Linked DNA regions of Homo sapiens. The protein of the gene in region 4 purifies or fractionates together with the protein of the main gene of each other region. This does not show direct contact. Each region holds a gene or a part of one and is shown on either strand. Other genes may lie near its edges. The genes, in order: MLF2, KLHL25, GLB1, DNAJB4, STIP1, INSR and SYNM.

Evidence for each region.
Region 1: the proteins of DNAJB4 (region 4) and MLF2 purify together in Homo sapiens (affinity purification with mass spectrometry; 2 studies listed by BioGRID and IntAct, with this or other methods). This does not show direct contact.
Region 2: the proteins of DNAJB4 (region 4) and KLHL25 purify together in Homo sapiens (co-immunoprecipitation; one large-scale study listed by IntAct). This does not show direct contact.
Region 3: the proteins of DNAJB4 (region 4) and GLB1 purify together in Homo sapiens (affinity purification with mass spectrometry; 3 studies listed by BioGRID and IntAct, with this or other methods). This does not show direct contact.
Region 5: the proteins of DNAJB4 (region 4) and STIP1 purify together in Homo sapiens (affinity purification with mass spectrometry; 2 studies listed by BioGRID, with this or other methods). This does not show direct contact.
Region 6: the proteins of DNAJB4 (region 4) and INSR purify together in Homo sapiens (co-immunoprecipitation; one large-scale study listed by IntAct). This does not show direct contact.
Region 7: the proteins of DNAJB4 (region 4) and SYNM purify together in Homo sapiens (affinity purification with mass spectrometry; 3 studies listed by BioGRID and IntAct, with this or other methods). This does not show direct contact.

Annotation. Positions count from the first base shown.
Region 1 is NC_000012.12:6,750,342-6,755,308, reverse strand, and holds the start of MLF2 (myeloid leukemia factor 2), read left to right. Parts: upstream 1-2,167; 5' UTR 2,168-2,370; intron 2,371-2,392; exon of another isoform or gene 2,393-2,427; intron 2,428-2,946; 5' UTR 2,947-2,974; coding exon 2,975-3,024; intron 3,025-3,254; coding exon 3,255-3,384; intron 3,385-3,632; coding exon 3,633-3,668; intron 3,669-4,542; coding exon 4,543-4,596; intron 4,597-4,967.
Region 2 is NC_000015.10:85,760,934-85,764,285, reverse strand, and holds part of KLHL25 (kelch-like protein 25), read left to right. Parts: intron 1-3,274; 3' UTR 3,275-3,352. UniProt on the Homo sapiens protein: Substrate-specific adapter of a BCR (BTB-CUL3-RBX1) E3 ubiquitin ligase complex involved in various processes, such as translation homeostasis and lipid synthesis.
Region 3 is NC_000003.12:32,999,198-33,003,499, reverse strand, and holds part of GLB1 (beta-galactosidase isoform a preproprotein), read left to right. Parts: intron 1-4,302.
Region 4 is NC_000001.11:78,003,710-78,007,738, forward strand, and holds the start of DNAJB4 (dnaJ homolog subfamily B member 4), read left to right. Parts: upstream 1-1,229; 5' UTR 1,230-1,401; coding exon 1,402-1,612; intron 1,613-4,029. UniProt on the Homo sapiens protein: Probable chaperone. Stimulates ATP hydrolysis and the folding of unfolded proteins mediated by HSPA1A/B (in vitro).
Region 5 is NC_000011.10:64,195,472-64,199,773, forward strand, and holds part of STIP1 (stress-induced-phosphoprotein 1), read left to right. Parts: intron 1-173; coding exon 174-342; intron 343-1,799; coding exon 1,800-1,926; intron 1,927-2,021; coding exon 2,022-2,124; intron 2,125-2,382; coding exon 2,383-2,503; intron 2,504-4,302. UniProt on the Homo sapiens protein: Acts as a co-chaperone for HSP90AA1. Mediates the association of the molecular chaperones HSPA8/HSC70 and HSP90.
Region 6 is NC_000019.10:7,168,113-7,172,414, reverse strand, and holds part of INSR (insulin receptor isoform Long preproprotein), read left to right. Parts: coding exon 1-125; intron 126-1,663; coding exon 1,664-1,878; intron 1,879-4,302. UniProt on the Homo sapiens protein: Receptor tyrosine kinase which mediates the pleiotropic actions of insulin.
Region 7 is NC_000015.10:99,107,738-99,112,039, reverse strand, and holds part of SYNM (synemin), read right to left. Parts: intron 1-4,302. UniProt on the Homo sapiens protein: Type-VI intermediate filament (IF) which plays an important cytoskeletal role within the muscle cell cytoskeleton.

The DNA.
Region 1 (4,967 bases), on a different chromosome or scaffold from region 4:
TTTTGTATGTATGCTTAATACAATGTACCTAGGACAGTTCCAGGCCTCATTAAACATTTGCTTTTTATTTTTATTTTTATTTTTTTTGGAACAGAGTCTCGCTCCATCCCCCAGGCTGGAGTGCAATGGCGTGATCTCGGCTCACTGCAACCTCCACTTCCCAGGCTCAAGTGATTCTCCTGCCTCAGCCTACTTGTGGGATTACAGGTGCTTGCTACCATGCCCGGCTAATTTTCGTTTTTGTTGTAGTTGTTGTTTTGAGACGGAGTCTCACTGTCGCCCAGGCTGGAGTGCAGTGGCACAATCTTGGCTCACTGCAATCTCCATCTCCTGGGTTCAAGCGATTCTCCTGCCTCAGCTTCCTGAGTAGCTGGGATTACAGACATGTGCCACCACGCCCAGCTAATTTTTGTATTTTTAGTAGAGACTGGATTTCACTTTGTTGGTCAGGCTGGTCTCGAACTCCTGATCTTGTGATGTGCCCGCCTCAGCCTCCCAAAGTGTTGGGATTACAGGCGTGAGCCACTGCGCCAGGCCTTAAACATTTGTTGATTGGCTGGACAATAAAGAACTTGCTTTAGAAGGAGGAGAGGACAAAAGAAAAAAAATGGATAGGATCTCTTTAGTTAAGTTTCAGCCACAGAACCTTTACTGGGACAACTCTTGATCACATGTCAAACTGCTTTCATTTGGGGCAAGAGGATAAGGGGAAGTTGCATGGTGGGAAGTGCAGAGATCTGGAAGACAGAAGATTTTACTAAGTCTCTTCCCCCAGAAATAGCAATGAAAAACAAATTTACTTGTATTCTGTCTGTTTTCCTTTGACTTGCCAGTCTGTCAGCTTATATCTTAATTATCTATCTCTGCTCCCTGTCTCTATTATTGTTTTTTCCTCTTTAATAATGATCAAGTCCAAAGAAACGTGAGAAGCCCTGTTCCTAGCACCTTTTCCTGAGTCACCAGGGACCCCCTCTTTCTCCCCCAGGGAATTACTGGGAACAAGTCTTTCTCATTGGGTCAGACTCCACACAGCACTAATATGGCTAAAAGCCAGAGTAAAGAACCAGGGAAAGCTGGAGTTTGGATGAGTCTGGTTAAAGTCCATCCTAGACAGTCCAAATGCCCTGACCCCAAAGGGGAAGGCCCTTCTCTCCAGCAGAGCCAGATTTTATGCAAGACATTTAGTATGTCAAAGTATCAGTCTCTGGCCTTGGAGGCAGGTCTTCTGGGCCCCGTTTTAGCTCCTCCCCTGGGTGATCCAGGTTAACTGAGCTCTCCACTCCTTTGTTCCCCCAAACTTTAGACCTTTGACCTAAGAAAGCAACCAAGAAAGGTCAGTGCAGGACTGGGAGCTCTTGAGGACACAAGAATTAGAGTAAAAGGAAGGGGAGAGTGGCATTAAACTAATAGATTCAGAACTGTAGCCTTTCCCCAGTCCAACCCTTCACAGATGGGTAACGGGGGAGGGTCCAGGTCCCTCTCCAACGCGAGTTCTCAAGGGCCTCCGGTTCCAGCCTGGCCGAGGAGCGCCATCTGGCGGCCAACCCCCCAACCTGGATCCTCTGCCCCATCCGACTTTCTGAAGCCCGAACTAGATCTGGGCTGGAGAGTTTCACCTCCTCTGCGTCACTCCGGGGACTCCGCCCTGCCAGGAACGCTCCTCCTCAAGCGGGGACAGGCCCAAGCGCCTCCCCCGCAGGAAAACTGCCCATCCTCCCTCTAGGGTAGACTGCTTCTCCAGTAGAGTCGGCTTAAAGCTCCCCCCAGGGATCCGCCCCGCCTCGTCGCCCACAGAGCGCCCGCCTCTCCCCAAGGGGCATCTGCCCCTCGTCCTCCAGTTTCCCCTTGAGGAGGGAGAGAGAACGTGCTGCACTGCGCCCCCAGGTTCAACCTCCAACCCGGTCCCTCCCGAAGAATGGATTCCTCTTCTCCTTCTCCTCCCCTGCCTTATGGGAGCCTCTTCCAGTCCACAGAACCCAAATCGAGGTTACTAATGAGCTCCCCTTCTTCGTGCCCAGGGGACCCCTCTCGGCCTCAGGCTCTGCTCCCCTGAGCTTGGCCCATGGCCCCGGCGCCCCTGGGACTCGGCCCCAGCCATCTCACCACCCGCGCCAGGGGGCGGGGCTCCCACGGCCCGGCCCCGGGTGGGCGGGTCTATCGTGACGTCACTTCCGCCCGGGCCTGGCCGAGGTTCGGGCTCCGTTGGCCGAGGGGGCCGTACGGAGGTGGCAGCTGTGGGAGGAGGCGGCGTGGAAGGCCGAGGAGCTCAAGCCCGGACCAATCCCCACGTTCCGGGCCGCGACCCTGACCCTGCAGCGTACCGGGAAGCGAAACCGGCCGGATGGGCCGCTGAGCCCGAATCGGGCACTGGTGAGGCTCGGGCAGAGCTGGCAGCCCCGGACGGGAGCGGGCCCACGGGGCTGCAGGGTCTGGGAGCCCGGGATGCGGGGTGGGGAGAGGAGAGGCTCAGGCCTACCTCTCCTGCTCGCCTGGCGGGGAGGCGGGAGCTAGAGGAGTCGCAGACAGGCGCGGGGGGCTTAGTGAGGCCCGCCTGGGGGAGGCCTGAGTGTAAGGAGGGGGCGGGGTGACTGGGGTCATTAATGGGGCGGAGGACCTGCACTTGGCATTCTCATCTAGAACGGTGTCGTCGGCGGGAGGAGGGGAGAGTATGCTACCGGCCAGAGCTTTGGGAAGAGGATGGCTCTGAGTGGGGGAGGGAAAAACCGAGAGGGTTGGAAAAATTTTCCATGGCCCTAATTGAGAAAGAGGTTTGAAGAGCCCTTCCCTCCCTAGAGGGTTGTGTGGAACACCTGGAGTAGGGTCTCCCTGGAGTTTAGGGGGTCAGTTACAGGATTTGGAAAGGACAGTGCTCTGAGAGTCCCCACACTGAGTGGGTGTGCAAAACCCTGGCCACCTCCAAGTATCTGAGCTTCCATATCTTTCCAGTGTGGAGCCCCCTGGAGCTGAGATCAGGATGTTCCGCTTCATGAGGGACGTGGAGCCTGAGGATCCCATGTTCCTGATGTGAGTATTCCCTCCCCCTCAAGCTCTCCCACTCCAGGTCTCTGAGCAGTTCAGGCAGACATCGGGGTTCCCATTGCTAGGAATGGTTGGAACTGGCTGGATACCTAGCTCCTACCTAGCAGGAAGTAGGCATCGGTGCCACTGTTGCTCTGTGCGTATTTTTTTGCAGGGTGGTGGAGGGATTGACAGTTTGGCGCTTCTGCCATCCATACTATGTGCTCACTCCACAGGGATCCCTTTGCTATTCACCGTCAGCATATGAGCCGTATGTTGTCAGGTGGCTTTGGATATAGCCCCTTCCTCAGCATCACAGATGGCAACATGCCAGGGACCAGGCCTGCCAGCCGCCGGATGCAGCAGGTAATGATGCTGAGACACACCTGAGACCCAAAGAAAGGTTGGAGGTTAGTTAGGAAAGCACTTAATTTTCTTGCACTACAGCCAACTGAGCAAGTGAAATGCTCTAGGAGTTGGGGAAAGGGTCAGGAAAAAGGGCTTTGTGACTCCCTTTTGAGAGGATGGAAAAAAATTGAGGCCATGGGCCTGGTTTGGGATTGTAAAGAGATAGGATGTGGTCTCTAATTTCTGTTCCTCATGTGTTCCTGTAGGCTGGAGCTGTCTCCCCCTTTGGGATGCTGGGAATGGTGAGTCTTTATCTCCCTGTGTCCTTCCATCTCAGACACACTCTCTACCCTTAGATATTATTCCCAAATGTGCCTCTTAGGAATAGTTTCATGAGTAACCCCAGAATCTTCTCTTTTTATGGCATTCACAAAGCTCTGAGCCTGTTGGGTACTAGGAGCCCTGTGGGTTAAAGGTGTTAAACTCTTGTTGGGAGGCCGAGATGGGTGATCACTTGCAGTCAGAAGTTCGAGACCAGACTGGCCAACATGGTGAAACCCCGTCTCTACTAAAAATACCAAAAAAGCCAGGCATGGTGGCACACACCTGTAGTCCCAGCTACTCTTGAATCCGGGAGGTGGAGATTGCAGTGAGCCGAGACTGCGCCACTGCCCTCCAGCCTGGGCAACAGAGCCAGACTCCATCTCAAAAAAAAAAAAAAGAAAAGATGTTATTAACTGTTGTACTCCTAGAAGTTCATACGCATTAGGAAGATGTAATTGTCTAGCAAAATTTGTTCTTTTGAGGAGGGAAGTGCAGTTAAAGGGCCAACTAGAGATGATTTTTTGGTAGGTTTTAACAATTTCATGCCTTACCTCTTTAGAGTTTAGAATCCATTACTTTGGCTTGCTTCCTAAAGATGGGGGGAATATAGCAAGCAGGAGAAGGAAAATTGGATCACAGCAGTCACAGAGACTGAGGAAGGGGTCAGCAGTTCACAGGAGGAGAAATATGAGTATTCTGGTTATTTTAACAGAATGAGAAAGAGAACTTGCTAGATGTGAAGGAAGAAGAGAAAGGAAATGTGCAGCCATGTGGGTTGTGGGTTCCTAAACAGGATCAACTCTGAACACTGACTTTGCTTTCCTGACTCTGTTTTCCATCTCTTTCCTCCAGTCGGGTGGTTTCATGGACATGTTTGGGATGATGAATGACATGATTGGAAACATGGTGAGACTTGCCCCATACCCTTCCCCGGCCTTGCTCTCAGTGATGGCTGACAACACCTTGCATCCTCTAAGGCAAGAGGGAAACAGTATGCTAGTGAAGGGTAAAGTACTGGATAAAGTAATTGAACCAGAGAGCCTTGGGACCCTGTACCTGCTGTCATGCCTGCCTGAAGCAGCCGGCAGCAGCTCTCTTACGTAGCATACAATTAAGGCCCTGTCTCTTCAGGTCCTTCTTGCTCGTGGTTGGACTCAGAGGAATTTGGGAGGGTAATGATGAGGCCTGATGTTTTTTCAGTTCTTGCATTTTGTGAGAAAGATACAGGCTAGAACAGGCAGCTGAAGGGTGAAATCCCTTCACCAGGGGTGATGCCT
Region 2 (3,352 bases), on a different chromosome or scaffold from region 4:
CCATGCTCTGCAAAGCTCCTCCTGTCCAGCTTCTGCCTGGACAGCTCAGTGTCCGAGTTCTCTTCAAAGGCAGGGAGTGAGCTGGGCTCTCCATAGAAGGGCCTGCAGCCCAGAAGCCGCTGCCCGGGCATGCCTGGCCTTCCCTGGGTCACCAGGAAATGGAGCCACAGTGGCTGCAAGCAGAGCTCTCGCTGCTCAGGCGGCCACTGCGGAGCTGTCAGGGCTGAGCCAGAGGAGAGCCCCCAACTCAGGCAGCCGCAGACCGGGGCCAGGAAGGGTGGAAACAAAGCACTCCTGCCACCTCCCCCGCGGTGGGTGCCCCTGGTGACCATGGCACTTCCCACTGAGCTTGGCTGCCTGCAGCCCCAACCAGCGCATCGTCGTCTGCCACCTAGAATGTCGTCTGGCAGTGCCTGGGCCCGAGATGGCTTCTGTGACCACCCCGCTCCCTACGTTTCCCTCCCTGACGCTACTCTCCCAGGCAGCAGTGGGGATCAGGCCAAGGATGCTGGTGAGAAGTCCAGCTCTCGCTAGTCCCCACGAGCATGGCTGAGTCTCCTGCCTCCAGCTGGGCCCAACTGCCCCTGTCCCTGGAGGCCCCTTTCCATCCATCCTGTAAGACTCTGACGTTAGCTTCAGAAGCCACCAGGAGGTCCCCTGCACACTGTGGCCTCTGCACCCCAGATCATGGCCCCTGTTTGTCCACAAGCATTTTTTTTCCCCTGTTCTGGCCACCTGTTGGAGCTCTTCATAGGTGTGAGCGTCTGCATCGAGTTCCCTGTCATTCTCCAGAGCTGTTTGTCGTAGGTCCTGCTGTTGGAGGGCGCCCACTAGGACTCTGAGAGGTGAGACAGTTGGCATCACATGAATGGTGAGTCAGGGCTGGAGCAGGACTTGAGCCCTGAGTGTGCCGCCTGCCTGCAGGCGCCTCTGGGGAGCTGGCCACGGGCATCCTCACGTCTGCGCCCCTGGCACAGAGCACAGGCTTGGCCAGCAGCCGTCCAGAAGCGGCGGGGAATTGCTGAGCTGGAACCTGAGCGACCTCCAGGGCAGCCCCTTGCTCCAGTGTTGCGGTTGGATCCACAGCCTAGGGGATAGCAGCCAGCGGCTGCAGGAGGCCCCCGCTTACCCACTAAGGGTGATCTTGCTGTGAACATTCTCTCCTTCTCTCTCTTTCTCTCCCACTGGGCACCCCGTACTCCAGGCCCTTTAAGGCGCAGACTCCCAACCCTTCTTTCCCACCCGCCTCCAGCATGGGGGGGCTGCCGAATGCAAGGCAGGCATCCGGCTGCCGACAGCTTGTCTTCTCTTCAGGGTGTTGCTGGGGCCTAGCCACTGGGGTGCAGGGCAGGGTTCCAGTCCTGGCTCTGGGAAAGGCCGAGCTCATTAATCCACTGTGGGCTCCGTCACTGCTGCAGGAGGGACAGTACAGTACATTCTCTCCTGTCTTAAAGAAGTTGCTACAGATGGGAAATCCCAGAGCACAGGCCTGAGGATTTCTGCCAGCCTTGAGGGTTGGGCCTGGCTAAGCAAGTGCCCAGGACGGAGTCCGTCCGTCCAGGCATCAGCAGTCATTCGTTCCTGTGCCAGGCTGGGGGATAGAGCAGCATCCCACCCTTGATGGGGCAGGCTGAGCCTAGTGGGGCAGGCCCTACACCAACAACCCACAGGATGCACGTTGGCCAAGACCTGCTGCACACAGGAAGTGCAGGGCGGCCGCTGACCCTTGTCCACTCTGCAAGCTGGAGGATTAGCCCATTTCACAGTTGAGGCCAGGCCCCAGGGAGCACCTGCCAAAAATTAAAGGGACCCAGCCTGAGAGGGAACAAAGGGACCCAGCCTGAGAGGGAACACAGGAGCCTGGCCCCGAGGCTCCCCAACCCCTGTGCCTCTAGCTGTCATCTGTATTCCTTTCAGCAACTCAGGGTGCCTTGGGGGACACCCCCAGGTAGGTAGCGTGGCTGTTTAGTTCCAGGTAGCAGTGAGGCCTTGCCCTGAAGGGACCACATGTCAGCATGTGGCGTGCTGGGATGGGGCCAAGACCGGGCAGCCAGGCCCCAGAGGTTCGGGTTTGCAGTCTTAGAGCATCTCAGGATGGTTAGGGCCCCTGTGACCCCAGCTTCTCACTTGTGAGGAGCTTGAAGGGATTTGGGGGCCTTCTCAGTCGCCGAACCCAGCCTCTGTATCTGGAAACAACTTGAGCACGTGGGGAGGGCAGAATTCCTGCAAAGCAGCCTTCAGAGAACAGACGGCCCAGCACTGTGTGGGATGGAGAGGTGTACCCCACTTAAAGGGGACAGCCGTGGAGCCTCAGTGCTGGCTTCAGTGTTTAATTGAAATGTAACTAAGGTTACTTAATACACACAAGCATACAACTAGAAAGCCCCTTATGTTCTTGTTCTTACACAACTAAAACTAACACGTACAGCTTAAATACAACCAAAGCCAAAAACCGCGGACAGCGTCACCATTAATCACTGCTTTGCTGAGGCTCCTTGCCTTATGGAGTGCATGAACACTCAGGGTTGCTAGAGTGCTCCGCCTGCCTGTGCCCGCCTGTGCGAGAGGGCTCACCTTTTCCTTTCAGGGCCTCGGAGTGGTATGTGAGAGGGAACTTACTCTATTAGGGGAATTGGCTCACTTGGTGATAGAGGCTGAGAAGTCCCATGATAGGCTGCAAGCTGCAGAACCAGGAGAGCTGGGGACAGACCTCAGCCCAAGGACAAAGAGCCAAGAGCCTGGGGTGGGGGTGGGGTGGTGGGCAGCAAGTCCCAGAGGCCAGAGAACCTGGAGCTCTGATGCCCGATGGCAGGAAAAGAGCAACCTAGCTCCAGAAGAAAGAAACCTGAGTCCCCATTTCCTTAGCTTTTTATTCCACCAGGGCCCCTGCCCATCTGATGGTGCTCACCTGCAACCACGGCTCTCACGCCGGTCACCTCTGGAAGCACAGACTCACTGGGGCGGCCTGGCCATTCGAATCAAGTACCAAGCCGCCTGGGTTTCCCTTCCAGCACTGAGAATACGTAATGTGTCCCCGGGCGTCTGGGTATCCCCGAATCCAATCAAGTTGACACCTGAGTCACCTGCCACTCAGTGGGGAAAGCAGGCCTGGGGTGCCTGAATCACCAGACTGCGCTGCCGGTGAATGGTGGATCTGGCGTTCTCACGCCCGAGCCTCATGGGCAGCTGTGTCATTGTCATTTTGTTCCAGATCAGGTCAGAACAGAACAATGTGGCCACTGATTGATTTTCTCTTCCTCTCCTCCCTCCACAGACCGCGGCCTTCAGTGTCACAGCGTGGCCTTGCTTGTCTGCCACAGCGGGAGCTAAGCCGGCCCTGGGCCAGCACTCC
Region 3 (4,302 bases), on a different chromosome or scaffold from region 4:
TATGTTAATTTAGCAACAAAACTTGTTAGAACTTTTGTAAATGGGTAAATAGGCTAGAAGTGAAAGAAGGTCTTCTTCAATTTTTAGGTTGTGAACTTTATAACAAATATGACATGAGGCAGTAGTTTTTGCTTATCAGTTCCTAGCTTGGTTCCAGATACGTGAGGTGGTTTGACGACTGTTGTTAGGTAAGCTATTGTATTAAAAAGGTCTAGCTATGGTGGAACTGTTGGAAGTTGAGAAGGAAAAAGAATTTTTATTTGGGATTTGATGAGAAGTGATTTATCTTTTATGCTGTTATTTTATGCATTTGATGGCTTCAGTTCTATTTGGACCTGTCCCAAAATATAGAGAAACCATAAAGTTATTTAATTTTATTACTTTAAGACTGAGGAGGAAGCAAAAAAGTGTGATTTGCGTCAGCTGCAGAGCCTTTTGGGGTTCTGAAGGAAGGGGAGAATTAATCTTCTGTGTATTTCATTGAGATCTATTTAACCTCTTATTTCTAAGCAAGCCTTGTAAGAGGCTTTTACCTTTTTTTCTTTTCAATTCTCCTCTTTTTCTTCTCTTTCTCCCAGGTAAGCATCACAGTGATTCATGAGTTCGGTGTGTGAGAGCCTTTAACCTTGGGAACTGGACCTTTGTCTTTCCCATTTTAAGTCCTGCAAGTGTCTAAATGTTTTCTTTCAGAGTGTGACAAAGGCAGCATTCACCCTGAGCTTATTGTTGCTTTTAAAGGAGCTCCCAAAAAATTTTGGAAAATTTTAAACTACAACTTAAAACAGTAGTGAGACCAGGCACAGAGGCTCACACCTGTAATCCCAACATTTTGGGAGGTGAAAGCAGGAGGATCACTTGAGGCCAGGAGTTTGAGACAAGCCTAGGCAACATAGTGAGATTCTATGTCTATTTTTAAAAATAGTTTTTAAGTTAGCTGGCCATGATGGCTAACAACAACACGTGCATACCTCCCCCCGATAGTTTCACACCTATAGTCCCAGCTCCTCAAGAGGCTGACACAGGAGGATCGCTTAAGCCCAAGAATTCGAGGCTGCAATGGACTATGATAGTGCAGCTGCAGTCTAGTCTGAATGACAGCGTGAGACCCTGCCTCATAAGGAAGGAAGGAAGGATGGAAGGAAGGAAGGAAGGGAGGGAGGGAGGGAGGGAGGGAGACTTTTGTTTTAAATTCCATTTATCCAGATAGTTTAAAACAGACAGACAAACACATGTATCTGTCTGATCAACAAAAAAGTAGGTCAGGCATTTCCAGGAACCTCACATTTATGAAACTATTATTATTGCCTTAGTGATTACAGCAAAGGGTGGAGAGTCTGCCAGGGTCAAGCCGTGGTCAGAGAAAGTCACTTTGTCATGGAACTATTTTAACTGAGACTGCCTTAGGAAGCCCCAGAAACCACTGCTTGGTCCCCATGGGGCTGACTTCATTAAGAGTGTATCTACTTTTAGATCATATTCAGCAACACGTGCATACCTCCCCACCAAAAATAATTGCAAAAGCATAACTTTTTAAGAGAAATAAAAATCAATGTATATATTTTTTAAATAGAATTTTTAAAGGTAAATTATATTAAAGTGTTTTTCATTGGTTCTAATCAAGGAGGGAAGGCAAATGTTTTTCTTTTAGTGAACAATATTCTTTAAAACTCTTAAACTGGGAGCAGAGGAACGTGAAGAATTCTTTCAGAAGGGCTTCATGTCACCTCTTCAACGAATCTTTTCTTGGCAGAATTATCAACAAGTAGCAGCAGCCATGAGTGCTACTAAGTGTATATTGAATATCACTCTCCTGCGTGCGGAGAATCTCGCCTCAAACAAAATGGACAAAGACTTTCCCTTCCTAGAGCCTGTGTTATAGCTGGAAATAGCTCATAAACTAGTCATCAAACAAAAGATATGAATTTCAAATCATGATAATAACTAGAAGAAAAAGAAAAAATGAAAGGATAGTGAGTGACTTGGAATGGAAAGCCCAGCATTAAGGAGGAGGGTCGTGGCCCTGCCTGAGTGATGAGAAGGCTTCAGGCTGAGGTGAGTAGTGTTTGCACATGGGGACGAGCTGATGCCCAAGCAAAACTAACTGAAAGTAATTGGGGAGCTGTGTGTGGTGATGCACATCTGAAGATCCAGCTTCTCGGGAAGCTGAGGCAGGAGGATCGCTTGAGGGCAGGAGTTTGAGGCTGTATTGTGCCTGTGAATAGCAACTGGAGTCCAACCTTGGCAATGTAGCAAGATGTAAGAGTGAGAGAGAGAGAGAGAAGAGAGAAGACAGGAAGGAGGAGAAGAGAAGAAGGAGAAGGAGAAGAGGAGAGGAGAAGAGAAGAGAGAAAGGAAGAACAAGAAGGAGAAGAAAGAGAAGGAAAGAACAAGAAGTAGTGGAGAGTGGAGTGAGCAAGGGGGAGTGCGGCAGACACAAGGAGGAAAGGAGGAAGGTATGGGCTGTGGACCACAGGAAGGAGGTTTGAAACAGGAATGTGTGAAAAGAATCCTATTTTCACTTTGGCAGCTATGCAGAGCCTAGATTCTAGAGTTAATAAAGTCAAGAGACTGTGAGGAGGCTGCAGCAGTCTAAGACAACATTGATTTATGACTTGCTCTGGAAGTCAGGCTGTGAGGATAGAGAGAAATGGAAGACTGATGGTCTAATAATGAAGTCACTAGGATCTCACCATACCTTAGCTCTGTAGTCCAGTGCAGTAGCTTCTTGTATAATATTGTTGGGTTTTTTCTGTTTGTTTTGTTGTTGTTTTTTTTAACTGAGTCTTGCTCTATCACCCAGGCTGGAGTGCAGTGGTGCAATCTCAGCTCACTGCAACCTCCACCTTCCAGGTTCAAGCGATTCCCCTGCCTCAGCCTCCTGAGTAGCTGGGATTACAGGCACCCACCACCATGCCTGGCTAATTTTTGTATTTTTAGTAGAGACAGGGTTTCACCATATTGACCAGGCTGGTCTCGAACTCCTGACCCCAAGTGATTTGCCCGCCTTGGCTTCCCAAAGTACTGGGATTGCAGGCATGAGCCACCACACCTGGCCTTGTATAATATTCTTTACAAGAACGTTCATTTTTAACCACATATGGTTAAGTTTAAATTAATTAAATGTGAAAATTCAATTCCTCCTTCACACTTTTTTAAAAAATAGCTACTCTTTATAGTATCACTAAAGTTGGACACATGCATATCCCATGACCCAGCAATTCCATTCCTAGCATTCCCCTCCTGTAAGAAACATGTGCATGGCCAGGCGAGGTGGCTCATGCCTGTAATCCCAGCACTTTTTGGGAGGCTGATGGGGGAGGATCACTTGAGACCAGGAGTTTGAGACCAGCCTGGGCAACATGGCGAAACCTCATCTCTAAAAAAGTACAAAAATTAGCCAGGCATGGTGGGGCATGCCCGTAGTCCCAGCTATGTGGGAGGCTAAGGTGGGAGGTTGACACTACAGTGAGTCGTGATGGTGCCACTGCATTCTAGCCTGGGTGTCTGGAGTGAGATCTTGCCTCAAAAAGGAAAAAAGAAAAAGAAAAAGGCCAGGCATGGTGGCTCACGCCTGTAATCCCAACACTTTGGGAGGCCGAGGTGGGCGGATCTCTTGAGGCCAGGAGTTGGAGACCAGCCTGGGCAACATGGCAAAACCCCATCTCTACCAAAAATACAAAAATGAGCTGGGCATGGTGGTGCACGCCTGTATTCCCAGCTACTCAGAAGGCGGAGGAACAAGAAGCTCTTGAACTTGGGAGGTGGAGGCGGAGGCTGCAGCGAGCCAGGATTGCACCACTGCACGATAACCTCCCCAGAGCAATGGCTGCTGCTTCTCTCCACCCTCCCAATCTCAAGCAAGGGCCTCTTCTGACCAACGCTAACCCAGAACCATCCAGGGAAGGGGATCCAGGGAAAACAATTCCCAGCTTACCTACCAGGTGCACAGTCCACCCGGCATGTGAGGGCCCATCTCTTGGATGCTTATGAAATGGAACTTGAGGTTTGAGAAAGGACCAAACCTCCACTTTGTTCACCTGCGATTTGGTCAAGAGTTGGCTTGGCCTGTGTCCTGACCATAGCATGAAGCCTGTGTGGTGCGTGCCATTCCTTGGCTGCTGCTCGTAATGCCCTCCCACTTCTCTGTCTTCCCCCTTGACCGCAAAAGTAAAGTGCTACTGTTCTCTAATACTGCAAAAACAAGGCACCGGCAGATTTTAAGCTGATAAAAACCTGCTAAAGCTGTCATTGTATATACCTTTTAGGATGGAATGAGATAACATATCCCAGGGTAAAAACAAG
Region 4 (4,029 bases):
GATGAGTTATATACATAGAAAATGTCTCATAAATACCTGAAATATGTTATACTTTCAAAAGCAGGCATCAAAAGGGTATATAAATGCTATGATCTAACTTTGTTAACAAAAAATTATAAAACTACAGCAAATAACCATGAAGATTTATAGAAAACAGAATTAGAAGTAAATACAGTAATATTTAACAGGGATTACCTAAAATGATATTATAGGGAGATTTTTAAAAACTTTTTTCTGCGTTTTCCAAAATCTCCAACAATGAATATATATTTATAATTAGGGAAATGTGTTTTTGAAAGAAAAAATATTTCTCATATTACTGCCCCTTAAGTGGCATATCCAAATTTTACATTGATGCAGTTGCAGTTAAGTCTTGTAAGGAACATGAGTATGTACTGTCTGTAACCTGATACTTTGTTCTAGCTTTCCTGCAGCACCACAGTTCTTTAAATAGGGATCCTGTGGGGCGGCTGCAGGGGACGGGGGTTGAGGGGTGGCAGGGACCTCATTCAGTTTTAGTTTAGTTGAAGTAACTAAGTTCAGATACTAAAATTTCAAAAATAAGTATTTGTTTGCCAGAACTATGAACTCATGTATACTAGAAATAACTAGTTAGCTAAAATCATGTTTAAGTCCTTTACTTATTTTAAAATAACGCATTTGAATTTTATTATAGATACTCCCTTAACAATGTGAAACTAGTACACAAACTTTCTGGCGTTTCTGATTGATAGACCCCAGGAATTTTGAAGACGACATAAATTACTTGGAAATCCTAATTTAAACAACCTGCGTTTTGGTATTATATACTTAACAGACAAATAGCTTAAAATTAAAAAATCCCTAAAGTAGAATTGTCGTTCCTTTTATCTGTATATTAACTTTAACTTCTTTTAACATAGGGTGTTTAATGACTGTGATGATTTTCACCTAGTATGGAGTACATAAATATATAGTTGTGACATTCTGTGTTGAAATATTGGCATGTTAACCCATTTGTCCTGTTTAATTAGGAAATAAAGACGGTAGAGCTAGTCGGAAAATGAATAGTTAATCGTGGAGGAGGAGAAAACATAGCTCAGTACTTTGACTAGAGGCAGCTGGGAAAGTGACGTCCTGTAGCATTTGCTGTTCTAGAAAGTACAGAGACACGTAGTGAAAATGGGAGGATCTAGAAGGAGGCTGTCTCCTGTGTAGTGTATATTTATCTGTAAGTGAGCCGTTGGGGAAGGATTGAATACAGAGACGCTGTCTGCTTGCTGCCTTAAGACAGCTAGCTGAATTGCTGATTAACTTTTAAAATACCCAGCTTGGTTTATTTTTCTTAGAATCTGTTGCTAAGACTGGGGACGCTGTTTTCTTTTACAAAGGGAAATCTAAGTTAATTTCAAGGCATTCGAAATGGGGAAAGACTATTATTGCATTTTGGGAATTGAGAAAGGAGCTTCAGATGAAGATATTAAAAAGGCTTACCGAAAACAAGCCCTCAAATTTCATCCGGACAAGAACAAATCTCCTCAGGCAGAGGAAAAATTTAAAGAGGTCGCAGAAGCTTATGAAGTATTGAGTGATCCTAAAAAGAGAGAAATATATGATCAGTTTGGGGAGGAAGGTAAGTATTCTCTGTATATCTTTCTGTCTCTTCAGCTCTGTCTCTTTTTTTTTTTTCTCTCTCTCTGCCAGCCTTTTTCCCCTCTCTCTCAGCTTGTTAAGGTTATCCTTAAATTGGATTCTCAGTCATATCAAAAGTAGAAGGACAAATGTATAATAACAAGGTTTCATCTCTGATCATATGAATGAGTATTGCAGAGCCATGAATGAAATGTCCTTGTTTGCCTTTTTTATTTTAGCATTTTGTATTATACATATTTTATCATTAGACTTACAATGTTAACAATGTATATTTTAAAATAAACCTTGAATTCCCATACCTATTAGTAAATTGTGTCAAAAGTCTTATGAAACCTGTTTCGTTTTCTAATGAATTTTCTGCCAGAACCAATAAAGAGTCTTTAGTCATTTAAAACCTTAAGATTGGCATTTCAGATTCTGAGTAGTTTATAGCTTATTCACAAAAACAAAAAGTAGTTTTTTGCCTTTCTTATAGCAAGGCTAGTTTAGACTGAACAAGACAGAGTTGTGACTCTCAGAAGCAGAAGGCGCAGGCATTTAGCTTCTAGTTGTTTTTGGCATTCTGCCTGGAGAGGAAAGAATTTTCCTGATGTCATAAAATACCAGAACAAGTTTTTAGCTTAATTGTAAACAATAATTTTGTGCCAAGAAAATGAAATCTCAGAAATACAATTTTTGACCTAAAATGGCCACCTAGTTAGAATAATTACTGATTTACTTTTAGATAACATTATTTATTTAGAAATTTTACTATCTAGGTATAGAGAAAAACATGACAACTTCCCTTTCCTCTCCCTGCCATACTTTTGTTTTTTGCATTGTGAGATCAAAAACTAGTGAGCACAGTAAAGGAGGATAATTTCAGATTATCCTTTTCTCATTCTGCATTTTAAATCAGGTTTGTCCATCACTTCCATATAAACGGGGCTATGAAGTAAGACTATTTTAAATTGCTAATTGATAACACAAAAAACTTTAACTTGTACTGTTTTGGGGATTTTCAACTTTTAACATCAGGACTAAGTTATTTTATTATTAGTTTTTCTCCCAAAATACTGGCTTTCAAATCACTGTAGCTATGAAAACTTGTTATCCCTTTGATTCCTTTATTACATTTAACATCAAATTTTCCTAATTAGAAATATATCCTTAAAATATAGTCAAGCAGTGACTGCTTATTTTGAATGAAACAAATTAAATGTAGACAAGCAGGGTGATTGTATATAGAGGGTTTTTTCCTTTTTGTTTTGTTTAGCTTTTTTGGTCTATGAGTTGCCCAAAATTGAAGTTTATGTTGCAGGTTTTGGTGTGGTGAGGACCTACAGTGTCAGGTTCTTACAAAGTAAATATTGAAAAAGGCAAATACTGGGCAGTTCAATCTTGCATGATACCTATGGCCATATTACCCAAAATATCATGACTTGGTTTATCTCAAAAGCTAAGCAGGATTCTGAGATACTACCAATAATGTACTACTATTTCTAAAGGAGTAATTTTGTAATTTTGTAAAGAAATTCACAAACATGGAATGACACTGTGAATTCCTGTGAAAAAGCAGATATCCACTGCTTTGTATTTAAAATATTTTGCAACAATTCACTGATAGCTCAAGTTTGTGGCTAAGCCATTGGATCCAGGGTTTAGTAAGGATATTTGTCTTCAGAATTTTCAAGTCACCAAATGATACATTTTTCTTGATTTAACATTATCTCTTAATAGTGCTTTTCTAGAGTGATTTTTCTCATTTAATTTTTATTGGTCATTACACAATGAGTGAATTTTTTAAAAACTAAATCACCCTGAATCTGTATACCCTGGGTTTTTTTTTTTAACTTACATAATTGATATAAGTGATAGAAGGAAAGAGTGAGGAGAGAATGCCTTTTTTAAAACATAGAAATATATTATGCAGAAATACCATTCTCTAGTTATAGGTTACTTGAAAATACAATTGAATGGGCCAGGCGCCGTGGCTCATGCCTGTAATTCCAACACTTTGGGAGGCCGAGACAGGCGATCACCTGAGGTCAGGAGTTCGAGACCAGCCTGGCCAACATGGTGAAACCCTGTCTCTACTAAAAATACAAAAATTAGCTAGGTGTGGTGGCAGACACCTCTAATCCCAGCTACTTGGAAGGGTGAGGTAGGAGAATCACTTGAACCCAAGAGGCAGAGGTTGCAGTGAGCCGAGATCGAGCCACTGCACTTCAGCCTGGGCGACAGAGCGAGACCTCATCTCAAAAAAAGAAAAGGAAAAAAAGAAAATACAATTGAATGAAAGTTATTTGAATTATTTTTTAGAATTATTCTTCCTTCACAGGAAAGTATTATATTTGTTTGCCGTTTATTCAGAATATCTCATTTATTCTATTAAAAAATCCCATTTAGATACACTGT
Region 5 (4,302 bases), on a different chromosome or scaffold from region 4:
GGTTTGAGTATTTCTCAATTGTAACTCATGAGTGGTGCAAAATCTAGCCATCTTTTGATGGGTGAGGAGCTTCTAAACACAAGAATCTGACTTTAGTAGTAAGTGGGAGTTAAAAGACTAATTGTGGGGAGGAGTAATTACAATTTTTCTTTATTTTTTTAAATCAATACTAGGAAACTACAAGATCCCCGGATCATGACCACTCTCAGCGTCCTCCTTGGGGTCGATCTGGGCAGTATGGATGAGGAGGAAGAGATTGCAACACCTCCACCACCACCCCCTCCCAAAAAGGAGACCAAGCCAGAGCCAATGGAAGAAGATCTTCCAGAGAATAAGAAGCAGGTCTTGTTTTTTTCTCTCCTCACTGTCACCTATCTATAAACAACTAGAAATCTTTATGTTGAATGGGGACATCTGTTGACCTTGATTGACCATGATTATTATGGTTTTTTTAGAGACGGAGTCTTGCTGTGTTTCCCAGGTTGGTCTTGAACTTCTGGCCTCAAGCGATGCTCCTGCTTCAGCTAGGATTACAGTCACGAGCCACTGTGCCCACCTAAAACTATTTTGAGTGCTTTAGTATGCGCTAAGCTTATGGCTATTATTCATTAGAATGGCCAGCATGTTAAAAAATCAGCTTCAGGCCAGGCACGGTGGCTCATGCCTATAATCCCAGCACTTTTGGAGGCCAAGGTGGGCAGATCACCTGAGGTCAGGAGTTCAAGACCAGTCTGGCCAACATGGTGAAACCTCATCTTCACTAAAAACACAAAAATTAGCCAGGTGTCATGGTGGGCGCCTGTAGTCCCAGCTACTCGGGAGGCTGAGGCAGAAGAATCGCTTGAACTCGGGAGGCAGAGGTTGCAATAAGCTGAGAGCTCATCACTACACTCCAGGCTGGGTGACAGAGCGAGACTCCATCTCAAAAAAAAAAAAAAAAAAAGCTTCACAAGAGCATTCCTAGGAGTAATGTGTAGCAAAGAGTGAGCTGCGGGAGTTGCCCTTCCCGTGGTCACCACAGCGGCTTCATTGCTGCCAGTGTGAATGTTGGTCCTAGCAAGACTGGAAAGTTGAGAGTAATTCACGTCCTTGTCGTGATCCGAAGAATGTTGTCCACATCAATCCCTAGGCCTTTGCTTCCTGGCTGGACATGGTGTGTGGTTGGGAGTGTCCGCTAAGCAGCACTCTTTTAGAGCAGAAGGCATGTGCCTCAACGATTTCATTTCCCTCCTTGTAAACTGGAACAGCAGATTGTTGCCAAATTTAGCACCTTGAAATGGGTAAGCGTTGGTTGTTTAGGGTGTCTCAGCTGGAAAAAGGCCCTCCAGTGTGGGCGGTAGTGAGCTTTGCTGAAGACTCGTGCCACTCAGCCGCTTCTCATCCTCTCACCACCCCCTCTGCTATGGTTCCCTGACAACTAAGACCCTGAGGCAACCACAAGACTGACACCAGATCTGCTGCAGCCTCAGAATAAAGCCTGGTCCAAAACTCTGCTGTCCTCACCGGTTGCTTCAAGTCGAAGGGATTTCCTCTCCCCTAAAGAAGCGCTCTGCTTCCTGACAAAGATCTAGGAGAGTAGGTGGAAAAGGGGGAGTTTCAGAGCAAGCAAAGATGAAGTTAGTTTTCATTCTAACGGCTGATACTTTATTGTCTATAGCTGACTGATGAAGAGGCCTTCAGGAGAACTTGATAGAATTCTATTCATGTTAGTTGCATTTCAGAACTTGTGACAGATCATAGATTCTTGCTTTGTCACCTGAGTTAGATTTGCTCAGCACTCACTTCTAAACCTCATCTAGGCACTGAAAGAAAAAGAGCTGGGGAACGATGCCTACAAGAAGAAAGACTTTGACACAGCCTTGAAGCATTACGACAAAGCCAAGGAGCTGGACCCCACTAACATGACTTACATTACCAATCAAGCAGGTGAGGCCCAGAAACAAGGGGCAAGGGAATTGTTGGGTGTCTCTGAGGGAGGAAGCAAAGACTGACTGTTCCTTCTTAACCATCCTGCCTGGCAGCGGTATACTTTGAAAAGGGCGACTACAATAAGTGCCGGGAGCTTTGTGAGAAGGCCATTGAAGTGGGGAGAGAAAACCGAGAAGACTATCGACAGATTGCCAAGTAGGCTCAACCTTCCAGAATACCTTGAGTAGCGCGGAGGGTTTGCTGTCCAAGACTTAAGTTTCTCTGCATGGGGAGGAGGGCTGCTGGCCATAGAATCTGCTGTGTTAAGAAAGGGCTGGCAAGAAGGTCACCAGAGACAAGACAAAAGGTGTTGAAGGCAGTGATGCGGGCCTTTCTAGCTGCAGGTGTGTTTTTCTGCAGGAGCTGACTTTATCTCTCTGTCCTAAGCAGTCCTTGTCCCTCTTTCTTTATCAGAGCATATGCTCGAATTGGCAACTCCTACTTCAAAGAAGAAAAGTACAAGGATGCCATCCATTTCTATAACAAGTCTCTGGCAGAGCACCGAACCCCAGATGTGCTCAAGAAATGCCAGCAGGTGCGTAGGAAAAGAATAGGGGTATTTTCTTGTTTTCCTAATAATTGAGCCATTGTTTCTTACTGTTTTATTTAATAATGAACTTGACTTTTTTTTTTTTTTGAGATAGGGTCTCACTCTTTCACCCAGGCTGAAAGACAGTGGCACAATCGTGGCTCACTGCAGCCTCAACCTCCTGGGCTTCAGTGATCTTCCCACCTCAGCCTGAGTAGCTAGGATTACAGGCACGTGCCACCACGTCCAGCTAATTTTTTTTTTGAGATGGAGTCTGTTTGTCACCCAGGCTGGAGTGCAGTGGCATGGTGTCTGCTCACTGCAACCTCCGCCTCCCAGGTTCAAGCAATTCTCCTGCCTCAGCCTCCCGAATTGCTAAGACTACAGGTGCACGCCACTATGCCCGGCTAATTTTTGTATTTTTAGTAGAGATGGGGTTTCATTATATGGACCAGGCTGGTCTCAAACTCCTGACCTCATGATCCACCCACCTCAACCTCCCAAAGTCCTGGGATTACAGGCCACTGCGCCTGGCCACGTCCAGCTAATTTTTTTATTTGTAGAGAAGGGGTCTCACTGTGTTGCCCAGGTTGGTCTTGAACTCCTGAACTCAAGTGATCCGCCCTCCTCAGCCTCCCAAAGTGCTGGAATTATAGGCGTAAGCCACTATGCCTGGCTGAACCTGATCTTTTTTTAGGTAGTGGCTTTGGTCATCTTACATGATTCTTTCTCTGTCATTTAACAGTGACAACATGTAGGAAGTGATCTGGTGTTTTTTTTTGTGGTTTTTTTTTTTTTTTTTTTGCAGTTTTTGGTATTGGCCAAGATTTCAACCCTAAATGTGTTAATATTGAGGGCCTGTGCATTGAGAATGTTAATAGTTCTTGTAACATAACATTTTGACTATTTTATAAAGACTGTAAATTTCTTTTAAAATCTTGCCAGCAATAGCCGGGTGCAGTGGCTCACGCCTGTAATCCCAGCACTTTGGGAGGCTGAGGTGGGTGGATCACAAGGTCAGGAGTTCAAGACCAGCCTGGCCAGGATGGTGAAACCCCGTCTCTACTAAAAATACGAAAAAATTAGCTGGGCGCAGTGGCAGGCGCCTGTAATCCCAATTACTCAGGAGGATGAGGCAGGAGAATCGCTTGAACTCAGTGGGGCGGAGGTTGCAGTGAGCCGAGATCATGCCACTGCACTCCAGCCTGGGTGAGAGTGAGACTCCATCTCAAAAAAAAAAATCTTGCCAGCAATAGCCAGTCGCAGTGGCTCACGCCTGCGATCCCAGCACTTTGGGAGGCCGAGGTGGGCGGATCAAGAGGTCAGGAGATCGAGACCATCCTGGCTAACACGGTGAAACTCTGTCTCTACTAAATAAATAAAAAAAATTAGCCTGGTATGGTGGTGGGCGCCTGCAGTCCCAGCTACTCGGGAGGCTGAGGCAGGAGAATGGCGTTGAACCCGGGAGGCAGAGCTTGCAGTGAGCCGAGATCGCGCCACTGCACTCCAGCCTGGGCGACAGAGCGAGACTCTATCTCAAAAAAAAAAAAGAAAAAAATCTTGCCAGCAATACTCTGAAAATTAAAATCCTAATCTGATTTTTTTTTTTTTTGAGATGGAGTCTCGCTCTGTCACCCAGGCTGGAGTGCAGTGGCGCGATCTCGGCTCACTGCAAGCTTCCGCCTCCCGGGTTCACGCCATTCTCCTGCCTCAGTCTCCCGAGTAGCTGGGACTACAGGCTCCCGCCACCACACCAGGCTAATTTTTTATATTTTTAGTAGAGACAGGGTTTCACCATGTTAGCC
Region 6 (4,302 bases), on a different chromosome or scaffold from region 4:
GAAGCCAACCTCGGCCTCATTGAAGAAATTTCAGGGTATCTAAAAATCCGCCGATCCTACGCTCTGGTGTCACTTTCCTTCTTCCGGAAGTTACGTCTGATTCGAGGAGAGACCTTGGAAATTGGGTACGTGGGCCTGATTGTGTGTATGGCCTGAGTGCTAACTAGGAAGTTCGTGTATTAGAACAACTTAAGGATTTTTTTGGCCAGGTGTGGTGGCTGATGCCTGTAATCCCAGCATTTTAGGAGGCCAACGTGGGTGAATCACTTGAGGCGGGGAGTTCAAGACCAGCCTGGCCAACATGGTGAAACCCTGTCTCTACTAAAAGTACAAAAATTAGCCAAGTGTGATAGTGCATGCCTGTAATCCCAGCTACTTGGGAGGCTGAGGCAGGAGAATAGCTTGAACCTGGGAGGCAGAGGTTGCAGTGAGCCAAGATCACACTACTGCACTCCAGCCTGGGTGACAGAGTGAGACTCTGTCCAAAAAAAAAAAAAGAAAAGAAAAGGAAAAACTTAAGGATTTTTTAAAAATCAAATAAAAACAAATAAAAAACAAATAAAAGTATATCTGGCAAAACCTCGGGAAAAAAGAACTTGGAATGTGCCTAAAGGTCCATCCAGCCAAAAATTGTAAAAGCTTTTTTATAGTCATTCTTGAGAAACAAAAGTGGGAGCAGCCCAACCTTGGTGCCCATCCTCCAAGGGTACAGGCTGGAATTTTTGCTAAATTTGCTGTTTGGGCTGCATTGTGAGTAGAGTTTGGCATGCATAAAATGAACATTCCCTCTTAGTCCCGGTTGTCCATCCTAATTTCTGGGATGGACTCCATCTCAGTATATTCCAGTATATTCCAACCTTCTCCTTGAGGTCCTAGAAACTCTATTAGCAAAACAGCAGAAACTCAAACTAGCTAGATCAAGATTGACTCATAGGCAGGAGGTCTGTGGAAGACCCAGATTCTTTCCATCTTTGTGCTCCTCATGGTCACAAGATGGCTGCCTCAGCCCCAGCCTCACATCTGTAGAACAGACAGCAAATGGGGAAAGGGACAAAAGGACATGTTAATCAACATGAGCTGGTAAGTGACTTGAGAAGGTGGTCTAAACAATATAGTTTAGACTATATTATCTGTACTCCAGCCTAGGCACCAGAGTGAGAATCCATCTCAATAAAACAAACAAACAAACAAACAAAAACCTTCAATGGCTCCTTTCTCCTTATTAAGGATGGCCACATGTTCTTGGTCTTGGTCTGGCATGCAATATACTAGAGGGTCTGGTCCATTGCAACTACAGCTATTTCCTGTCACCTATTGGCCAAAACAGGCTACTTTGCTCTTCCCTGAACTCAGCTTAGGTGCCTCTGTGTTATCAGTATTTCCCCTATTTGCAGAAATTGGTTTCTGCAAAACCTATTCCTCAGTCCATCACAGACTCACCACCCCTCTTCAAGACTGAGCTGAGCCTCCTTCCTGGCCATGAAAACTTCCTCAACTTCCTCTGTTATCCACATTCAACAAATATGTGTTGAGTATGTGCCAAGCAAGTGGAGAGGATTAGGCACGTAGCACTGAACAAGATCAACTCCGAGCATGGCCACACCATCTTGGAGTTGTAGAAGACCAGCCGTTGAATGACTAGATGTGTGTGTTTTTTCCATAGGAACTACTCCTTCTATGCCTTGGACAACCAGAACCTAAGGCAGCTCTGGGACTGGAGCAAACACAACCTCACCATCACTCAGGGGAAACTCTTCTTCCACTATAACCCCAAACTCTGCTTGTCAGAAATCCACAAGATGGAAGAAGTTTCAGGAACCAAGGGGCGCCAGGAGAGAAACGACATTGCCCTGAAGACCAATGGGGACCAGGCATCCTGTAAGTCACTGGTCCCCAACCTTTTTGGCATGAGGGACCGGTGTAGTGGAAGATGGTTTTTCCATGGACTGGTGGTGGGTGGGGATGGTTTCAGCATGATTCAAGTGCATTACATTTACTATGCACTTTATTCCTATTATGATTACATTGTAATATATAATGAAAGAATTGTACAACTCACCATCATGTAGAATCAATGGGAACCCTGAGCTTGTGTTCCTGCAACTAGATGGTCCCAGCTGGGGGTGATGGGAGACAGTGACAGATCATCAGGCATTAGATTTTCATAAGGAGTGTGCAGTCTAGGTACCTCATGTACACAGTTCACAATAGGGTTCACACCCCTGTGAGAATCTAATGCCGCCGCTAATCTGACAGGAGGCAGAACTCAGGTGGTCATGCAAGCGATGGGGAGTGACTGTAAATACAGATGAAGCTTCACTTGCTCACCTATCACTCACCTCCTGCTGTACAGCCCTGTTCGTAACAGGCCATGGATAAGTACTGGTCTGTGGCCCAGGGGCTGGGGACCCCTGCTGTAAGTGGTCCACAAACCAGATAATGTGGCTGTCCTCTCTCATCCATCACAGTCACCCCCAGGGGGTATTACTTCCCTCTAACAACTCACTGTGTGATAGGCTTTCTTACTGAGGGCAGATTCTGCACATTTATTAATATTATCACTATGCTTACTGTGCCATATAGTACCGGATACGGGATGAAGTCATACAAGCACTGAATGAATGGATGAATGAATGATGGATGAATGGATGACACCTTCTTATATGTGTATCAGGCTGATGCTGAAGACTTCAAAGTTGAGTAAAATACCTATGTCAGTCTGCATCTCCTGGGAAGTGACTGCCAAGTTGAAGTTAGGAGTGCAGAAAATGTATTGAGGGTAATATTCATAAAATATGAAACAGAGGAAGAGCTTCTTTTTTTTTTTTTTTTTTTTTTGGGACAGAGTCTTGCTCTGTCACCCAGGGCTGGAGTGCAGTGGCGTGATCTTGCCTCACTGCAACCTCCTTCCCCTGGGTTCAGGTAATTATCTCGCCTCAGCCTCCAGAATAGCTGGGATTACAGGCACATGCCACCAAGCCCGGCTAATTTTTTTTTTTGTATTTTTAGTAGAGACAGGGTTTTGCCATGTTGGCCAGGGTGGTCTTGAACTCCTGACCTCAGGTGATCCTCCCGCCTCGGCCTCCCAAAGTGCTGAGATTACAGGTGTGAGTCACCACGCTCAGCCATGAAGAGCCTTTTGACAATAGCGTGTGTCTGACCTCTGTGAACAGAGAGCGGGAAGGAGGGAGGATAGGGCTGGGAGAGTCTCAGATGGTGATGCATCCCTGAGTCTTGGCCAAACCCAGAAAGAGATCAAGGCCACGGTTGTCTGCAGGGAAGTTCTGCATTGCAAAGGGACGGCCAGGCATCTACCAAGCTCAGTCATAGGTGGGGGCTGTCCAGGGAGAGTCAGGTTTTGGCTGGAATGCTACAGCAGGTCCTGCAGTTTCTGCAGCTGCAGGCTGCCTGCTGACTGCACTTCCCTGACAGATTCTAAACAGTGAGCTGCCAAGGGCTTCTGGGATACCTTCATGGGGAGTTAGTTACTTATGTCAAAATGTAGTGCAAGGGCTGGGCATGGTGGCTCACGCCTGGAATCCCAGCACTCTGGGAGGCCGAGGCAGGCAGATCACTTGAGGTCAGGAGTTCGAGACCAGCCTGGCCAATGTGGTGAAACTCCATCTCTACTAAAAAAAAAAAATACAAAAACTAGCTGGACGTGGTGGTGGGTGCCTGTAATCCCAGCTACTTGAGAGGCTGAGGCATGAGAATTGCTTAAACCCGGTAGGTGGACTGCACTCCAGCCTTGGTGACAGAGCAAGACTGTCTCAAAAAAAATGTAGTGCAAGGAGAGAGAGCGAGGTTGGGGTGAGGTTTAGGAGAGGGTTTGTCTTCTAGGCAGAGAGAATTACTTAGATGCGTCTCTCCGATGTCTAATGATCTGCAGGGTCTCTAAACTCACTTGGCATAGGTTTATTTGCACTGGAGTTGCACCTCCTTCCAGGTCAGTCTTACAAGTCCATATGCGAGACAACGTTGTGTCAGGACAAACATCACCCTTGGAAATCCCTTCCTCCAATAACTATTGGCCGGTTGTCCTTCTTGCGCGGGTACAGACTGCGCTTATTCAGTTGACTGTCTGGCTGAGTCAAGTCATTGGCTTACGTGAGTGTGAGTGGCCAAGTTGCAAAACTGGCTCTTACCTTTGAATCTTCCCCCATTCATACTCAGCCAGGCACATGGGGAGGAGACCCTTAAGGGAATAGCAGCGTCACCTCTGCCTTCTCACGGTCCCTCCAGGAAGTGTGGGGGTCCCAGGCTTTGGTCTGAAACTACACTGAAATAGCTCATTTTTGCCTT
Region 7 (4,302 bases), on a different chromosome or scaffold from region 4:
TCTCGCTCTGTCACCGAGGCTGGAGTGCAATGGCACAATCTCGGCTCACTGCAGCCTCCACCTCCCAGGTTCAAGTGATTCTCCAGCTTCAGCCTCCCAAGTAGCTGGGACTGTATACAGGCGCCTGCCATCACGCCCAACTGATTTTTGTATTGTTAGTAGAGACGGGGTTTCACCACGTTGGCCAGGATGGTCTTGAACTCCTGACCTCAGGTGATCCTCCCGCCTCAGCCTTGCAAAGTGCTGGGATTATAGGCACAAGCCACTGCACCCAGCCAGAATTTATCATTTTTTAAAATGCATGATCAGCCAATAAATATTCCCACTTCTCATAACAGTTCTATTTCTATGCCAATGATGGCTGTTAGGTTCCCTGAATATAAAGGGTCCTGAAGTAGTTTAAAACCCCTTAGCTTTTAAAGCAAAGAAGTAAACTTAAAAATCACTGGCTTATGTCCCAGGGTGGAAAAACGATAACAGATCCCACAGCTGGCATTACAAACAGAGAAGCTCACCAAAGAGCAACTGCCAGTCTTGATGTAAGTGACAGCACTGCCACAATTTAGCCACAATATTCACACATTCTAGAGTTAAATCTCAATGTCAAAATCCTACATTCCCCTGTTTTAGAGGGAATACAATTCAGGTACAAGGTTCTCATACAAGATGGGCTGTAGGTATGCATGTATGTATGTATGTGTGTCCTTCCTACTACAGGAAATTTGACATAACTATTACAAATTAAAAATTTATAGTAATTTATTCCTTACAAAGAAGTTCAAATGTTGTTAAACTGCTTAGAAAAAAAATACGATGAAAGCTCTCCAACCACAAACCTCCTGAGCAGGTCAAGAAAGCCTAGTCACGTGGAAGGGGTGTGCAGGAAGATACTCCTCCCAGAGCACACAGAATAGTTCTGCACCCACAAAATACAAAGAGGAAAATCAAACTGTGTTGAAGTTGGAATAAGTACAGTTTCAGTCACATTTCCATGTGAGTCAGCTCCTCCTAAATTGTCAAAGGAAAATTAGTTGACGTTTGGAAGCAGGAATATAAGACTTAACTGGCTCCCAGTGGTCTCTGCAGAAATCACAACAAATCCTGCTGTGGAATAAAACTTCAGACTTGGGCTCTGCTTGGCCAGTCAGCAAGCTGTGGGTCAGGACAGAGGCACTGGAGCCCCAGACACGGGACGCTACATCTCACCCGAGCAGAGGCAGTTTCACCTAATGCTGCAAAAGCTTGGGAGAGAGGTCACCTTTTTGCTATTTAGAGAACTTTTGGGCAGCATCACAACCGATGATGAAATCTTGCTCCACACCAGGAAAGGCATGCTGCTGTCAGTATCAAAAGAATTAATTTTCTCTTAGCCAAACTTGAGCTACCGCTCACTGAGCAAGCCTGTGGGACAGTTCACAAATATCACTGTCATTTGCAACCTTGAAAGGTAGAGCTCCAGGGGATTTAAATACTGTGATAACTTCAGCTACACACAAAAATTAAATGTATTCATAACAATAAGCACGAACTGGATGCCGACGAAGTATTTATAGCTTAGCCCAGACAGCACCCTGAACTCAAGTTATATTTTACAATTCCAGGTGGGTGTGTAAGAAGCATCTCAAACTGAACACACGTACATGGAACTTGAATCTCCCACCCAGGCCCGTCCTCCTAACCAATGCCCCGCAGTAAAGCGTATAAGAGGTACCGGAAGTAGCTCCCAGGGTGTATACAATTGGTTCATTCGTTCAACTACCAGCCGTTGAGCATTTAGTGTGCCAAGCGCAGTTCTTCATGGCTGCGGATTCAGCAGTGAAAAATGCCACGTAAAACAAGGAAAGTCCCTTCTTCCAGTTGCTCAGGCCACAACGCCTGAAGTCCACTGTGATTTCTCCCTCTCCCATCACATTCAATCTGGCAGCAAATGCCGTTGGCTTCAACTTGAACGCAGGGGCCCCTCTGAGACCCCTGGTCCAAGCCTCGAGCACTTCCTGCCTGGGTTACTGCAACAATCTCTGAAGGCATCCCTGAGTCCACTCAGTCTATTTTTAAAACAGCAGCAACAGTGATTCCACTAAGCCACAGCCAGGCCCCAACTCTCCTCGGCTCAGAACCTCCAGTGGCTTCCCATGGCACTCAAAGTAAATGCCCAAGTCCTGCAGTGGCCACTCTACCCCCTGTTCACTGTGCCCTAGCCACACCGGCAGCCTGGCTGAGGCATCCCCGAAAAACCACACGCTGTTTCCACCTGAAGGCCTCTCAGGTCAAGGGACTTTCTTTGTTTTACGTGGCATTTTTCACTGCTGAATCTGCAACCATGAAGAACTGAGCTTGGCACACTAAATGCTCAACGGCTGTTAGCTGAACGAATGAACCAGTTGTACACACCCTGGGAGCTACTTCCAGTACCTCGTTTCACAAATGGGGAAACTGAATTGCAGACAGGTTAAGGAACGTAACCTGCCCAAAGAGCGGCAGAGTCAGAATTCAGGGCCAGGTAGGACAGCTGCAGAGCACTGACCCTTAGCTAATCCCATCCTAATCCCACCCCACCTTCCCATCTACAAAAAGCTTTCATTCAATCATGTTTTGGGGGCTTGGAAGCCTTTTCCAGTCAGCCTCAGCAGCTAAGGGCTCACTTTCATAAGCAAAAATCTCCGTGTTTGCAGGGTGAAGCTGGTCTCCACTTTATCGCAAATGTCTTCAAGTGTTTTCTGAAGCCCCCTCCTGCAGCCTGGGTGTGTCACTCAGGCTTCAAGTGATCTAGATCACATTTGGGAACTTGGATGTCAGTTCAGCAAACTCTTCTCGGGCAAATCTGAGGCCAGGCCTGGGGCAGGCCAATGACTACCGCCTCATACAGTGAAGGCGCATGGGCCATCTGGGAAGGACCAGTTTCCCCTCAAGTAGAATCCTAGCAAGCATCTTCCCCCTTGAGCCACAGAAGCTATAGCCAGAGGCAGGGAGAGCTGGGCACAATGTGGCAGCACCCTCTGCTGCCTCCAGCTCCTGCCTCCAGGGGAGGGGGGCATTAAAGCACATGGAACACAGAAAAAAAGAAATGAAAGAAAATAGTTTTAATGCCAAAACTATTCAGCCAGCTGGAGGGGTCTAAAAGCATTTTAGGACTTGAAATCAGCAGAGTACCTCGGGCTAGCCCTTAGGAAGAGCAATTATCATTATGCTATGAATGCAAGAATACTGGTTAAAGGTTTCTCTCTGATCAAACAGACAGAAGAGAGAAACGGACGCCCAGCGGTCAGTTGCTCAGGCACTAGAGCCTGAGTTGAATCCTGGCTTAACTACTTACTAATCAGGTGACTTATGTGCCTCAGCTTCCTCCTCTGTAAAATGGAGCTTATATTAGTACCCACTTCGTAACACTGGTGTGGGCACTGAGAGTGAATATTTGTGAAGGGCATCTGTGGTACCTGGCACACACGAAGCACTTGCTAAAGGCTCTTAGTAATAAGATATTTATTACCATATACTAATTCAACCCATTTTTAGGATTTTTTCACTCTCCCCATAGTAAGCTTCTACAGAACCCGAAAAAAATTACAGGCTTGGGGTTAAATCATCCATACTCCCTCTTTCACATACTTCCTAGCATCTCTGTGATTGGTGCTGAATCTTCTGGAATGCAATTTGAAATGGAGTTGACTTAAGTTAACTGAGGGAAGATTCAGTATATGGACAAGGTAGTGACTGGTAACACTTAGTGCAGTAAAACCTCTGCAAATTGGAACTGGAAAAAAAAAATGGCCGGGCACATGGCTCACACCTGTAATTTCAGCACTGTGGGAGGCCACGGCCGGTGGATCACTTGAGGTCAGGAGTTTGAGACCAGGCTGGCCAACATGGTGAAACCCTGTATCTACTAAAAATACAAAAATTAGCCAGGCGGGGTGGTGGGATCCTGTACTCCCAGCTACTCGGGAGGCTGAGGCACGAGAATCACTTGAGCCCAGGAAGCGGATGTTGCGGTGTGCCGAGATCAGCCACTGCACTCCAGCCTGGGCGACAGAGCAAGACTCCGTCTCAAAAAACCAAAACCAAAACCAAAACCAAAACCAAAAAAAAAACAAAACAAAAAACAAAAAAAAAAACCAGGTCCTTATTGACATTTTCCTCGCTCTTTGCTTTTAGGAAAAAGCAGCAAATTCCAACAAGAGAGAAGTATCACTGGATGGCAAACGGAGAGTGGGGTCCCAGCCTCACTCTGAGGGCAGGTATGACCTCAGGAAAAGCACTTCCCCGGTGGGCCCTGGAGTCCCTGTGTCAAAGGAGGGCTGCACA